Regions from separate parts of the Homo sapiens genome. Here region 2 is linked to region 1. The links come from fine-mapping of genetic effects on gene expression. Tissue or cell type: whole blood. Region 1 holds a variant in brackets; the other region holds the start of a gene. All regions are shown on one strand. Distances are between the middles of the regions.

Region 1 (8,102 bases):
CTCATTCCTTTTTAAAAGTGTTTTGTTCAAAACCTCTCCGAGACCTGTCTCTCCCTGTACCCCATCCCCAAGCCAGACCTTGCTCTAGATTCTTTTTCAAAGAATTGGGTATAGCTATGTCACAGAGAAGCATCCAAGAAGCCACTACTACAGTAGTCCATTCCTAGGGGGAATGGGCCCCAAGGTTTTGTTTTTTTATTTCGTTTTTGGGGTACAGGTGGTGTTTGGTTACATGGATGAGTTCTTTAGTGATTTCTGCGACTTTAGCGCACCCATCACCCGAGCAGTGTACACTGTACCCAATATGTAGTCTTTCATCCCTCACCCCACTCCAAGATTTAGTTCTGCCAGACGATACATGTTGCCTTCACTTCTTTTTAGTTTATTTGCCTGGACCCATCTAAGTCATACTTAAAACTCTATAAAGCATTTTTTTTCTTTGAAATGGTCTCAGCTCCTTCTTGATCCTCTCCATTTTCCACCCAATCTCCTCTATCCCTCTCCCTTTACTGCCTGAAATCGGCTGTAGATGTAGCAGTTTCTGGAGGAAATGAAGATTTGTGGTGGTTCTTTCCAGTCACCAGGTTGTGAAAGTCTTAGGGGTGAGGGGAAGGAAATCCCCTCAAGGACAAGATACTACTACCACATTAAGGTCAGGAGTTCTTAAAGGGCGAAGATTTCATTTTATTCCACTGCCTTCAGGGGCCTGCTAGAGGAGGCCCAGTTGGTACAGTAATACTTATTCACCAAGCTGGTCATCGACGAAATTGAGGATGTCCTAGACGGAGCAAGAATAGGCAGAGGCTGAAGGTAGAGGTTTTCTTTTTATATATACAAGACACATTAATCCATTAAATTTGAGGACACAGTACAAAAAAAAAAAAAAAACAAAAAAAAAACCACTTCAACTAATTCATCTGACAATGCTGTTCATATTCATGACGCCATTTTTTTGTTTGTTGTTGTTGTTGTTTTCCTAATAATAAAGAAGGAGACTTAGGGCTGTTGGGCTGATATATGTTTGGGGGTCCCACCTCCCCGCCTCATCCGTACACCACCAGGGTGAACAGGAGGAAGCAAAGGAAGTGCAGGGCCCATAGCAAAGTTTCATAATCTTGAATGCAAGAGGGGAGAAGGAATGGAAGGGGGAAAAAAAAGGAGAAAATACAAATCCTATAATACATACAACAGGGTGGGGATGGTATAGGAATGGGACAGACATGAAGCTGAGGCATGGGGTGGGCCGCTGGGGGTGGGGGGCAGCGGAAACCCCCCACATTCCTTTCTCTTTGATGCTGTTTCCATAGTTTCCAGGCTGAGAAGCCCTCTCAGAAGATGGGACCGGGAGAAGAGGGTCAGGGCCTCAGTTGGCCCCCCAGCTGTAGCTGTTGTAGGCAGACTTGTTGGTCTGGGGCTTCTGCGGGATGGAGCTGGTCTGGCTACGTTGCCCGCTGCCCGTCTGCAGGGGAATGGGAGGATCATGAGGAGGAAAAAGGTGTCTAGTTAGTGGTACAAATTTGTAACATCTTCAGGTGGAGATGTGCAAACTGTCTTGCTCTCCCATTCCCCTCACTACTATTAGAACCATAGAAAATTTGGTCTGCATAGCTGCTAAAGCCCCTTTCTTACAAGCAGGAAGGCATTTTTGACTTTTAAATAGGGAAAAGATGAAGAGGGCAAGATACCTTTAGAGACAAGGTAGTGAGTGAGTTCTACTCATTTTCAATTCTACATTCTCACACTACCCCCTCTCTCCCCTGCTCTTGGAGATGGGTGATCACAAGGCAATTTCATTTCCATTGATCCCCATTAATGCCTCAATTTGGAAAGCTGTCTTTGAGGAAGGAAGCCCTTATTCTAGCTCCAGCCACCTATAATGGAGCTCTCAAGAGGCCACTTGCATCGCCCCACAGATCCCCACCCCTACCACACATCACATCTGTGAGCCCATTTCAGGCAGGTATGAGAGGCAGTCTGAGGCCTCAGGCTCCAGATGCTGCCCCAAGAATCTTTTCCATTCTGGTAACCGAATGTTTTCCACAGCTGGGGAAGGGTACAAAGATAAAGAGGGTGTTGGGGAGGGGAGGAGGAGAGAGGAAGGGGAGGCCAGAGAGCTCAGCAAGGTGTTTGTGTTTGTGTATCCCGATTTGTGACCGCGCAGTCTTTTCAAGTTCCCTGAGGCTGTGAAGGTGAAATGGGGACTGAAAAGGAGTGGGTTCAAGCATATGATCATTCAATTTCATTACCTGCTCCTCCTGCTGGCGCTGGCAACAGAGAATCATCTGCAAATATGGTAGCTGAGGCAGAACCAGGATATATGGAAAATAAAGGGACAAACTTTGACAATAGAACTCCACCATTAGAAGGGAAAGCTAAAATGTCAGGGAAGAGGGAAGGCTGGGAGAGGAAAGAGGGAAGGTGTGACCCAGGTCTGATGGGATGAGGACAACTGTGGCACAGGAGGAGAAGGGCACCAAAGGAATTGGGCAAAAAAGGTTTCAACCCGGCCCTTCTCTGAGATTTCCTTTGCCGGCCGCTCGTGTTATGTGCGCTTGTGTCTGTATGTGCTGTGTGCCCATGACTGGCGCTGGGGAGGGATTGGGTGAAGGTGGTGGTGAGGAAGGGTAAGAAAAGGAAAGGGAAGGCAGTTTTAAGGGATAGGAAGGAAGAGGAAGGGAAAGGAGAGAAGGGGAAGGGCTATTACCTGGCCATCCTGCTGCAGGTGATGGTGAAGGATCTGAGAATGCGGCTGCTGATGGGGGGTCAGAATGTGCATAAAGGGGGCAGGTGGGTAGGCAGCAGCTGTGGCCGGATTGATGGGGCCCCCACTTCCTAGGGCTGAAGGCAAGTTGAAGGAAGCAGCAGGAGTACCGGAATGAAAACCTTGTTTCTCAAAGGACTGCTATCCAGGAGGCCAGGAGGAGACAGAGTAAAAGGGATCAGCAAACTAGTCTTGGGATTTTTCCTGAGCTCAAGCTCCCTGACCCTCAGAAAGCAGCATGGTGTCACAGAAGGCACAGTACACTTGAAGTCACATATTCAGGTCTCAGTCTCAGCTCTGCTCTTATTTAAGAACTGTGTGAACCTGGGCATACTACTCAATCTCTTAGCCTCAGTTTCCTCAGATATAAAACAGGGATGCTACAAACCTGTTGTAAAGACCAAATAGGCTGGGCATGGTGGCTCACATCTGTAATCCCAGCACTTTGGGAGGCCAAGATGGGTGGATCACACAAGGTCAGGAGTTTAAGACCAGTCTGGCCAATATGGTGAAACCCCGTCTCTACTAAAAATACAAAAATTAGCCGGGCATGGTGGCGGGCGCCTGTAATCCAGCTACTTGGGAGTCTGAGGCAGGAGAATCACTTGAACCTGGGAGGTGGAGGTTGCAGTGAGTCAAGACTGTGCCACTGCACTCCAGCCTGGGAGACAGAGGGAGACTCCATCTCAAGAAAAAAAAGAAAAAAAAAGGCTGGGCGCAGTGGCCCATGCCTGTAATCCCAGCATTTTGGGAGGCCAATGCAGGCGGATCACCTGAGGTCAGGAGTTTGAGACCAGCCTGACAAACATGAAGAAACCCCGTCTCTACTAAAAACACAAAATTACCCGGGCATGGTGGCACATGCCTGTAATCCCAGCTACTTGGGAGGCTGAGGCAGGAGAATCGCTTGAACCCGAGAGGCGGAGGTTATGGTGAGCCCAGATCGCACCATTACACTCCAGCCTGGGCAACAAGAATGAAACTCCGTCTCAAAAAAAAAAAAAAAAAAAAAAAAAAGACCAAATAAGAGGATGGAATGTGGAAGCACTTTGTAAAACTGAATGTCATATGTGAACATCATGAAATCCGAACTTAGAACTCCAGGCTGGGCATGATGGCTCACATCTGTAATCCCAGCACTTTTGGGAGGCTAAGGCGGGTGGATTGCTTGAGCCCAGGAGTTCGAGACGAGCCTGGGCAACATGGCAAAACCCTGTATCTACCAAAAAACAAAAATACAAAATACAAAACAAACAAAAAACAAAAATACAAAAATTAGGCAGGCCTGGTGGTGTACACCTATAGCCCCAGCTACTCAGAAGGCTGAGATTCCACCACTGCACTCCAGCCTGGGTGACTTCTTGAGACTGTCTCCAAAAAAAAAAAAAAAGGCAAACCAATAGTGTCCCTACCCCTTCCAATATTCCTTACAAAAATAGTAACTCCGCTGGGTGCAGTGGCTCACGCCTGTAATCTAGCACTTTGGGAGGCCAAGGTGGGCAGATCATGATGTCAGGAGTTCGAGACCAGCCTAGCCAAGATGGTGAAACCCCGTCTCTACTAAAAAATACAAAAATTAGCAGGCGCGGTGGTGGGCACCTGTAATCCCAGCTACTCAGGAGGCTGAGGCAGGAGAACCGCTTAAACCCAGGAGGCAGAGTTTGCAGTGAGCCGAGATCACACCACTGCACTCTAGCCTGGGTGACAAGGCAAGACTCCATCTCAAAAAAAAAAAAAAAAAAAAAACTCGTTGGATATTTCAAAAGAAATAAACACATACTGAGATATTTGAAGTGCTGAAGGTCTTGTGCATGAAGTGCCCCCCCAGACCCCCAGTGCTTTATAGCAAACTTTAAGTATTTATGGTGATGGGGGATAAAAGCAACATAACAAACCTGTGGATCACTCAAATGCTTCATTAGTTACTAGGTCGTCTCCTTTCCCACTCCCACTGTTATAGATTTACTCAAAGAATGGAATGAACTAGTTTCCTGTCACTCTCATACTTATTCTCTTGAAAAGTTATGAAAAAGGTTGGGAGTAGGTAGGAAAAGGGGCCAGGAGAGTTGCACAGTAAATTACATGACACGATAAACAATTTGCCACGCTTTACCTTC[C/G]TATTACGTTTCTCGTTTTTTTTCTCAGAGGGCTAAATTTTAACTTCTTAGAGGAAGTGAAGTCTAGAGAAGACCTTTCATTTAGAAAAAGTAGGATGGGTTTCCTGCCACCTCTCCTAGGGTTCTTCTTGTCCACTGTTATTTCTACCATTGCAACTCCACCTCCTCTATGTCTATCTCTTTTCCACTTTTATCCAGAGCCAGGCACCTACCTGGGTTTTGGAGTACACAGAACCCGAGATATCTGGCACGCCCGTGTTACTGGAGGTGACTGAAACACCTGGGGGAGGAGGAAACAGACAGGAGGATTAGCTCAGCTAGCTACCTGGCCCTTATTCCTGAGATGAGGTGATATCTGTAGCCTTTCTAGCTATACCAATGCAAGGGAATTTTGGTCGGTTTTCCAGCTTCAAGTTAGTCCTGAGAGGTAAGAGTTCATGAAACAAAAGCTCCCTAAGGGTTCTTTGGCCCTTCCCAGGTACGTGTTGAGTATACGTGAGAGAGAGTGAGGTAAGTTGTTTTTTGGTGGGCAAGGGGATATGACCAAACCTCACTAGCATACACTGTTTTCAAAACACTTCTGTGCCAAAGTCTAGCAGGAATATAATAAACTTTTAATTTTAATGTCCATTTCAAATCAATCCACCCAAATGCCACTCAGTTTTATTCCTGGAGACTGGGGCAGTCTGGCCCTCTCTCTTCCTGAAGTGACATTTCTGGGCTCAAAATCCATGCCTCCACTGCATAAGTACTAGAGGAGCAGTCCACTTTAATCCCCAAGGGCACTCTCATTCTCAGAGCCTCAGCTCAATTAGTCCAGCTTCTTTAGTCTTGGAGCATCTAGGCTAAATCTTCAAACTTAAGATGTAAAGGTCTAGTATCAAGATCAATTTCCATGTACACAATTTAAGCCTAAGTGTAGCGGGGTGGGGAGGGATAGGTAGACAGGAGTAGGCCATCTCCTATAGCCTAGGTGGAACACAAAAACCACGTCATTTTCAGTATACAACTTCAGCTTCTCCGTAAGATAAAAGCTCTCATACCCCAACTCTCATATTTCCTGTTGAAAAAAACTCCCTACTAACCACTACAACTTTAAAGAAACCAGAGTAGTACAACATGTCATTCTAATTTGTACTCCTCAAACAAATAAATACTCATACTATATTCCATCACCTGGGGTATAAGGCATCGGGTCAAGAAGATAGGAAAAGCCATGAAATAAATAACCTAACATCTTTTATACTTTCCATTTTGAAACAAAGATGTGAAGAAAAGTAAGTAATTTAACTAGGAATATAAAGCATGATTTTAAAAAGATATATTAGTTTTTATAAAAATAAAACAAAGCTTCAGAAAAACTTTGCCTGTCTATGCCCTTGGATCCTTCCCATCAGAGGTACACATTTCCTTCTCCTCTGCTATCAGGAACACTGATGGAAAAGAGTTTTAGAAGCAGTGTACTAGAGTGGCCAAATCACAAATAAGGAATCCTCCATTCACCCACAATTCAAACTCTAGAACCTAAATCCTCCCAATGCCTCAGACAAAGGCAGCCTTCCAAAGTTAAGCCCACCTTGAACAGTCACTTTTGAAGTGGTATCTTAATCTGGAAAACCTTCCCAACATCCTAAGTCCAGATAGTTCCTGGGAGGGGCAAACACTAACTAGGAAAAATAACGGAACTACAGAAAACCAAGCAAGAGAAAATACTTCCTCATCTCCGAAGCATCAACTGTCTAAAGACACTGAAGTAAAAGAAGGGAACGATACAGGAGTATCTTAAAGGGCTAATGGGGTATTTTTTCCATTCCCTTTTCAAACCCGAGGTGCCCATCTGGCAAATCACTGAGTAACAGGCATAACTTTTAAGAATAGGAAGTTCAGTTATGGAAAAGGCTTAAGCTAGTAAGTTCATGTGGAAGGGTGGAGAGTAAAGGTGGAATAAACAGGATATAAGTAGAACATTTTTAAGTCAAACCAAAAGAGAGAATTTATCTTTACTGCAAAGGCAAAAAAAAAATAAAAAAATAAAAAATAGCATAGTTGGTCACCTTCTGCAGTGAGGCTAGGCTGCCTATATTGGATGGAAGAAATGACTAACTGGATTCTCAAGCCGAGTGGTAGGGAGGAATTCAGCTCCAGTGTGCCCCTACCTGATCTCATTCTTTCCAGAGTTTAGGCTAAAAACAGCTTCTAGTCCAGAGGCCTTATCTTTGATATGAGGTTGAAGGGACTGAGAATGCAGGAACCATAATACTCTGTAGTAGCCATAATAATCTCAATTACAGTATTAGAGACCTAGAAAATAATGGGTACTGATTTCACTACCCCTCACCAGTTATTAGGAAGATCTTCAGACTACAGAGTTCTCTTGCTTTCCTTCCAACATCAACACCCCCTACTTATCCCCAAACAGTGACAATACCAGAATCACGTGGGCAGCAGGGCAGAGACACATGAATCTATCTCTCCCACCATGGCAGCCCCTGGGAAAGGTGGTCACACTCCACAGAGCAAAATTACTCCAAAGGGCTGGGAACAAATACAAGGAAAGCTGAATACTTTGGTTTCTAATTCACCCAGGGTGGTGATCTCACTGTCCACGTTAACTTTATAAACAAAGGGCTAATGTTGTATGCTAGCTGGACTGGGAGGGAATTAGAATTTCCATAGTCAAGGAGATATCTGACCAAACCGCTCCTGCACATCCTTAGCTTATACCCACAAATGCAAAACTGGTAATCCACGATCTCTGAAAAGCCATCAAGGGACTAAGAACAATGTTCCAGGATAGCACAGTCGCCACAGAGCCTGAGTCATCAACTAGCTTATCACTAATGACTTTATCAGATCTTAGCCACTTGGCCTTTAGGAACCAGATAGATGTGGGAATTAAGCCTTGAAAGATACTTCTCTAACAGCTCTGAAAACTCTCTCTTTTGCCTTTCACCATGACATGACACTCCAAACTTTTTTGTCCTTTCCCCCACTGCTTATGTAAGAGGCAAAGGAAAGATCTAAATGGAAAAATGAAGCAACATAAGCATGGAGAATCAGGTATTTCTACAAATAGTTTCCTTTACCAACTAATCAACAGGTGGGAAACTGAGGCTGTTTCCCCTCCCCCCACCTTCATAAAACCACCATACTGAAAAATTAATAGTTCTTTGGCTATGCTGGGGTTTGATTAAAAAGGCCACCCTCCACCCTTCATCCACAGC
Region 2 (8,102 bases), 48 kb after region 1:
CTAGACTGCCCAGAGATATTACTGGATTTGAGTGGGAGGAAGGACTTCTAAAGAAATATGCAAGGATTAACTATTAGGGAAGTGAATTTCATCTGACTTTCTTGGATGTCACAGAGAAAGCTGACTTTTTCTGTGCATAAATTCTTCACCAAGTTGCGTCAATAGGTTGCATAGGTCTTTGTATCAAGAAAGATTTTTTTAAGGTAGCTTCTCAGGTAATTTTTAACCCATTACCTCTTCCCCCTACACATATTGGCACACAAAAGCCCATAAGTATTTCAAGCTAGAAAGGATTATTTGCTACACAGTAGCCCATTTTCCCAGGTTAGCATTATAGTCGTTTCAACTTTACAAAAAAAAAAAATGTTTAACCAAGTACCCCGAATCCAAATCAACAAGACTACATATACACATATATACGTATATATATAAAGACGAGAGGAAAACTATTTTGTTTTAAAATTGGCTCTAAGATGAAGTTTCTAATATGGCATAGTCATTTCCAACCCACTACTGTAACTTACAAATATTGACTGTTTTCTACTCCACATGTGATATCTATTTGTGAGGATAAGTTATATTGCAGGTATAAACTGCATGACTAGCTATACACTATTGCATATACTGTACCAGTCAGATGTAAACATATTAAAAAGTCATCTTGAAAGATATAATTAACCAAGAAAGAAAAAAATTCTCCTAATCACTCTTGCTAGTAACATTTCCCTCTTACAAGTGCTTCGAAATGTGACTAAGAAAATTTTTACCACCTAGTAGTGACAACACTGAGCAACAGGTCAAAAGTAAGTGATCTGGAATGGATCACTTGAGGGCACAGAATTAGTAGCAAGCAGACCCATTCCCAGCTATCACACTGGAGATGAAGAATCTTGTTACTTACTTGCTCTTTCTTAGAAAATAAAAAGATTTAAAGGAAGTAGGGTGAGAAGTATTGGAGACCAAGGAAATCGTGCGAGAGTAAACAGAGGTTTCAACACAGGAGTGCCCTTGACTCTTTTTTGAAAACTAGCTACTTAAAAAAATAGCCAGAGAAATTTCACTGAAAAAACTAAATAACAAATATTTATTGAGAATCTACTATGTGTCCAATACTTCAGGAAAATACAAAAGCAGTATGACTTAGTAGCTGCCCTCAGGGAGCTTACAATCTAATTTAAGAAACAATTCAGAAACTGAAGCTAGACTGAGTTGGGTAAAATTTGCTACCTCTAACAGAACAACTAATTTCTGTAGATGCTTTGTTGAAATGGCCCCTGCATCCCCTTCCCCACCACCTTGATATCTAGTTAGTAAGAGTACTTCCCAGTTAGGACATAGCAAGGAGGAGCTTTAAAGATGAAAAACAAAACAGGACATTTTTAGGCCTTTCATCACTAGTTTATGTGCCAGCAATATTTCCCATTCACAAAGGAAACAATCATTGAGATAGTCTAATCTTTAAGGACAATGGTGTCAGATCTCAAAGCAGTTTTATCAACTGATACACAGCCAAAATGTTTTAATTCTCTGTAATCATTGGGATAGTCTAATCTTTAAGTACAATGGAGACAGATCTCAAAGCAGTTTTATCAACTGATACACAGCCAAAATGTTTTAATTCTCTAGAAACGCTGGTTACTAGTAATGTCCATCACCTCCCAGCAAGTCACATCAGGTATCCCCAAAACAGGATATGCGGCGGAGGAAGGTAGGATGGGAGAGAAGACAAAAAAAAAGGATTTCTCCATTTAATAATCAGGGAGAGTCAAAGGCAAAAACGTTAACAATAATAACAAAAACGCCTGTTACTGTGGTGTTTTTCTTTCCACAACATCCTACACCAGAGGTGGCTACATTTCAAGAATGGTGGAAAAGGAGCAGTCTCCAGTTTGTGACATCAGTTTGCAAAGCAATTTAAGGGCTGTCCACAAGGTTAAGGGTTTGAAGAAACTGGGCATTCCTGTACCATTATGAGAAGAGTGAACAAATACCCCAGTGCTCTAGTGACGTCCCTTAAGCGTAAATACACCCTATGGGGGCCTCCATGTCCAGCTTCCCAAATAACACAATTGTTTGGGGTACCCAAACTACAGTATAAACAGGAAGCTAAAGACAGCAGCAAAAACATATTCCAAGAACTGGGTTGGTGAGAAAGAAGGGAGGGTAATAAGAGGAGCTGACAAAGAGCCTGGAAACGGAGAGGGGACGCAAGCCCACGGGTGGAGGATGGGAGGCTCACCCCCCTCAGCGCCACATCGAGAGCCCACGGGGCCAATCTCCTCCCTACCTCCCAGCCGGAACAAATTAATCCTTCGCACACCAAACTGAGGGCCACATGGGGGAGTTTGGGGGAGCTCCACCCCATCGCCCTCCCTCCCCCACGCCACCCCCAAACCAGGCCGGATCCGGATCAGAGGAGGCCCGCAGTGGGTGGAAAGGGAGGAGGCCCTCTCCTCCGCAGGCACCGGCCGGGGTGAAGAGAGAGCCCTACCTCAGGCAAGGCCCAGGCCTCGCTCGCTCGCGCTCTTTCTCGCTCTCCCCTCTCAGGCTCTAGCCGCATGGCCCCCCCTTCCTACGGCTGCTCCAAGCCCCGCCCCGGCCACGCTCCCAAATCGAGGCCCCGGCTCTGGCGCGGCCCACTAGGCCGCGAACCCAACCATAAACAAAACCTCCGGGGGCCGACTCGAGGTGGGGGGCGCCAGGGCTCGCATGACTCGGGGGGGGGTGTACAGTGGGGGAACACACGGTGTGGGGGGGCCTACCGAGGGAGGGGATACGGCGGGGGCAGGGGAGAAAAGAGGGAGGGTAAAAGGGGGATCGCGGATTTAAAGGGGCCGCGGACAATACCCGGCCCCGCCGCGCTGCCGCTGCCGCCGCCGCCGCCGCCAACGCCGCTGCGCTCCCAACTTTACCTCAGTCTCCTCCACACTGACACCCCGGGCCGCGCCGCCCCTGTCACGTGATATAAGATTCCCTCTTCCCCACCCCCTCCCTCCTTTTCCCTCTCGCGCTCGCTCTCGCGCCTTCCCCCGCCCACTTGCCTTCCTGCGTCCCTCAGCGCGTGACGCTAAAAGGGGCGCGCACGCAAGCGTGCGCGTGCCGCCTCGCCACGAGACACCTCTTTCCGGCTCCGCGAGTCCACCCCGCCTCCTTCACGGCGGCCCTGCCTCCACCACGTGACGCACGGATGGCCGCCGCTTCCTCTTACTGTCGTAGTTCCGCGTCTGAGCGCTCGACGCTCCTGGGTGCCATTGCCTGCCTGAGTCACGTGTCAGGGGGAAGCTGGAAGGCGTCGTTCTCCTTTCCCAGCTCTCCTGCCTGTCCGCCATGTTTTCAGGCCGGGTCTGGCTTGGTCTTCCCCCGTAAGGAAATGGCCGGGGAGCTCCAGGGGACCCAGGCGCCGTCGCTTCGGCGGAGCCTGGGCTGACCAGCCAGGACAGCGGGGTAAACCCGAACAATTCTGCGCGAGGTAGGGAGGCCATGGCGTCCGGCAGTAACTGGCTCTCCGGGGTGAATGTCGTGCTGGTGATGGCCTACGGGAGCCTGGTGAGGAGATTACCCCACCCCATTCCTGCTGTCGCATCTTACCCAGTAGAGACCCTCCTTTTGAGCTGTACCCCGTCTGCATTCTCCACCCACTCACCTGCGCCTATCCGGGCTTTGACTCCTTATTCCAGGAGTAGGTGGGAGTTTAAGTCACTTAGTCGGGCCGACCCGCCCTCGTTAGTCTAGAACCCTCCCTTTAACGCTAGAGCACAGACCCCACGCCTCCCTGCTGCTGGCTTCTTAGATCCACCCCCATCATAACGGCCTTGCTTTGCCCCAAGTTTTACCCTGAAACATTCCTGAGAGCCGGAATCTGGGGATTTGGAATGAAGGCATGCTTTTTTAAAAAAAAAACAAAACAAAACTGACTTTTTATTAAAGGATTTTTACATCTTTTTGGACAGGTGTTTGTACTGCTATTTATTTTTGTGAAGAGGCAAATCATGCGCTTTGCAATGAAATCTCGAAGGGGACCTCATGTCCCTGTGGGACACAATGCCCCCAAGGTAGGTCCTTAGGGCACAAGTTAAACATACTTCTCCAGATCTTTTAGGGTCAAGAATGAGATTTCCTCTGCCTTTAGTGATGACTTTAATTCTCATGTTTCTTTGCGTGCACTTGTCCTTGTACTTACTAAGTTGAGCAGGCACTGTGCGCTTTGGAACTTGGCTTACCTGCTCAGTGCTGTGGCAAGCATGTGGCTCATCCTGGAACTTCTGTTTTTGTATCTGCAGAATGAAGGGCTTGGGTCGAAGTTCCCAACTGTTTGTAGTAAAATATTTCCCAGCTCATCTTAAACTACCCAGTGTTTTTTGTTTGATTAGGATGGGGTTGAGATCATTAAGGTTAACCCAAGAGCAATGAGAAGGGTTACCTTTACATAATTTTAGACTTAAGAGGAGCTCCATAAATCATCTAATTCCACCATTCATGTTACCAAGAAGCCCAAGAAAAGGAGGCAGTTTACCAGAAGACGTATAGGAAGTGAATAACCCAGTGGTCTTTTATCTTTGTCTGTACTTTCTCCTTAGGTGACTGTCTTCCTTTCCTTGGCTTTAGCTACAGATGAAATTTTATCTCTATCCTAGAACTCTTTCCTGAGTTCCTTACATATATTGCCAACTGATTACCTGACATTTCCACTTAGATTTGTAGTAGACATCTCAAACCCAACATTTGTGAATCAGAATTATTGCTATCCCACTGCCACTCTCATTCTGCTTCTTTAGTCTTTCGCTTCTAAGTAAAAGACACCTGCTTCCCTTACCAACCCCCTTTTGTGTGGCTCTCCCCAGATCACTGGGACCCAGCTCCACTGGCTGAATTTTCCACCCTTTTTGCTCCTGTGATCTGGAATGGTCTTCAATTGGCTAGCTCATTCATTCTTTTGATCTTAGCTTAAATGTTACTTCCAAAAAAGGAATGCTTATTACCTATTTTAAAGTAGGTTCCCCCTCTCTTTATTTTCACATGGTACCCTGATTTTTCCTTCATAGCATTTACCATAATTTTTATGTTTGTCCATTTGTTTAAAACATGCCTCTCTCTTCCGCTAGACCGTAAGCTTCAAGAATGCAGGCACCATGCCAGTTTTGTTCACGACTATAAAGCCAGGACCTACACATAGTAGGTACTCAGTAATTTCTTGTTGAATGAAAAACAGGTTAGTGCCAGGGCCTACACATAGCAGGTACTCTGTAATTTGTTGCTGAATGAAAAACAGGTTAGTTGTAGAGCTAGAGCTCATGACTCCCTCAACTCCTAGAGCACTGTACTTTCATTAACAAGTGCTATTAACCTTCCCCTCTTTGTTCTTTGCTGACATAGTACATGAAAAGGCTCTAGGAGGATGTCCTGGCTTGAAACCTTAACAGTCCTGCCTGCCTCATGAGAAAGACATAGGGTTAGTTTCTAGCACATCATGAACCAATCAATACTTTGGCTATTCAGGGGTCCCTTGGTCTAGTTCAGAGCAATATTCCTTTTGCTTAAAAATTTTTTCTAAATTCTCAACCATTGCTAGTGAAAGTATAAATTAGTAAAACCACTTTGGAAAATAACTGGTCATTGTCTGGTAAGATTGCACATGTACCTAATCCATGGTCCAACAGTTTCTCTCCTACCATAGAGAAATTAAGTTTTGCTCATGTGTACCAAGAAACATGTGCAAGATTATTTATAGGGGCATTGTTCATAATATTTGAAGAAGAAACTTAATTCAAATGTCCACTTTTCAATTATTATATAGGCTGAGTGCAGTGGCTCATACCTGTAGTCCTAGCACTTTGGGAGGCTGAGGCCAGAAGATCATGTGAGCCCAGGAGTTACAGACTGCAGTGAGCTATGATTGCACTGATGCACTCCAGCATGGGCAAGAGCAAGACCTTGTTTCTAAAAAATAGGTAGTGGTATATTCATATTCTGGAATAGTGTAAAAAATGAAAAACTGAAGATAAATATATGAAGACAAGTCCTCAAAATACTTCTGAATGAAAAAAATTGCAAACATGAATCTCAAAAACATGCTGAGTGGGCCGGGCATGGTAGCTCATGCCGGTAATCCCAGCACTTAGGGAGGCCGAGTTGGGCAGATAACACTTGAGGTCAGGAGTTCGAGACCAGACCAGCCAACATGGTGAAACCCAATCTCTACTAAAAATACAAGAAAAAAATCCTAACTACTCGGGACGCTGAGGTAGGAGAATCCCTTGAACCCAGGTGGCAGAGGTTGTAGTAAGCTGAGATCAAACCACTGCACTCCAGCCTGGGTGACAGAGCGAGACTCTGTCTCACCAAAAACAAAAAAACCATGCTGAGTGAAGAAAGCCAAAATGCCGTTCACAAGAGAATATGTACCATGTGCTTCCACCCCATTTATATGAAATTCTAGAACAGGCAGAACTGTAAAAGAGTACATCATGTTGCCTGGGCTGGGAGAGGGGAGATTTCCAGGTGATGAAAATATTCTTTACTTTGATTGACGTGGTGGTGAAGGGGGTATGTTCATTTGTCAAACTCATCAATTTATATACATAAAATGAATGCATTTATTGTATGTAAATTCAACCTCAATAAAGTATATTTGAAAAATTTTGCTGGGTGCGGTGGCTAACGCCTGTAATCCCAGCACTTTGGGAGGCTGAGGCAGGTGGATCACCTGAGGTCAGGAGTTCAAGACCAGCCTGGCCAACACGGTGAAACCCCGACTGTACTAAAAATGCAAAAAAATTAGCTGGGCGTGGCGGTGTGTGCCTGTAATCCCAGCTACTCAGGAGGCTGAGGCAGGAGAATCACTTGAGCCCCGGCGGAGGTTGCAGTGAGCAGAGATCACACCATTGCACTCCAGCCTGGGTGACAGAGTGAGTCTCTGTATCAAAAAAAAAAAAAATTTAAGGCCAGGCGAGGTGGTTTACACCTGTAATCCTAGCACTTTGGGAGGCCGAGGCAGGCTGATCACGTCAGCTCAGGAGTTCGAGACCAGCGTAGGCAATATGGGGAAACCCTGTCTCTATAAAAAGTTTAAAAATGGGCCAGGCGCGGTGGTTCACGCCTGTAATCCCAGCACTTTGGGAGGCCCACATGAGAAGATCACAAGGTCAGGAGTTTGAGACCAGCCTGGCGAGCATGGTGAGACCCCATCTCTACGAAAAATACAAAAAATTAGCTGGGCATGGTGGCATGCGCCTGTAGTCCCAGCTACTTGGGAGGCTGAGGCAGGAGGGCAAGGAGAATTGCTTGAACCCAGCAGGCAGAGGTTGCAATGAGCCAAGATCATGCCACTGTACTCCAGTCTGGGTGACAGAGCAAGACTCCATCTCAAAAAAAAAAAATGTTTAATAATTAGCCATGCATGGTGGTGTGTGCCTGTAACCCCAGCTACTCAGGAGGCTAAGGCAGGAGGATCATCTGAGCTCAGGAGGTGGAGGTTATAGTGAGCTGAGATTGTGCCATTGCACTCCAGCCTGGGTGACAGAGTGTGACCCTGTCTCAAAAAAAAAAAATTTTTTTTTTAAACAAGTTGCAGAGGGATTCTTAAAGTATTTTTCCATTTGTATCAAGTTGAAAACCAGGCAAAGCTAAGCATCTTTTTTAGGGTGACACGATAAAACAGTGAAGAAGTGTATGAGGACTATTGACAAGTTAAGGTTTGGGGTGCGGAGCATTCAATGAGGGATGGGCACACAAGACTTGAAAGTTAGTGGTAGGGCCGGGCGCGGTGGCTCACGCCTGTAATCCCAGCACTTTGGGAGGCCGAGGCGGGTGGATCATGAGGTCAGCAGATCGAGACCAACCTGGCTAACAAGGTGAAACCCCGTCTCTACTAAAAATACAAAAAATTAGCCAGGCGTGGTGGCGGGCGCCTGTAGTCCCAGCTACTCGGGAGGCTGAGGCAGGAGAATGGCGTGAACCCGGGAGGCGGAGCTTGCAGTGAGCTGAGATTGCGCCACTGCACTCCAGCCTGGGCGACAGAGCGAGACTCCGTCTCAAAAAAAAAAAAAAAGAAAGTTAGTGGTAATGTTCCATTGCATAAACTGGATATTGGTTATAGGTGTTCA

The links. PIP is the estimated chance that this variant, and not a neighbour inherited with it, causes the effect.
Region 2: it holds the start of LTAP1, and the variant in region 1 is fine-mapped to the expression of LTAP1 in whole blood (TOPMed, PIP above 0.99).

Annotation. Positions count from the first base shown.
Region 1 is chr1:154,263,557-154,271,658 of GRCh38, reverse strand. It overlaps UBAP2L (ubiquitin associated protein 2 like), which reads right to left. Exons shown (of 27, transcript NM_014847.4): 25 at 5,091-5,158; 26 at 2,705-2,902; 27 at 812-1,459. The coding sequence ends at 1,364. Among named protein-coding and RNA genes, the nearest start is that of HAX1, 5.0 kb to the left of the region's middle. The variant C/G (reference allele first, on the strand shown) is at 4,879.
Region 2 is chr1:154,215,786-154,223,887 of GRCh38, reverse strand. It overlaps LTAP1 (lipid transport auxiliary protein 1), which reads left to right and starts at 3,298. Exons shown (of 7, transcript NM_001098616.3): 1 at 3,298-3,546; 2 at 3,951-4,052. The coding sequence starts at 3,481. It overlaps UBAP2L (ubiquitin associated protein 2 like), which reads right to left and starts at 2,933. Exons shown (of 27, transcript NM_014847.4): 1 at 2,913-2,933. RefSeq lists silencers at 2,760-2,909, 3,770-3,839 and enhancers at 2,430-3,177, 3,160-3,599, 3,178-3,925.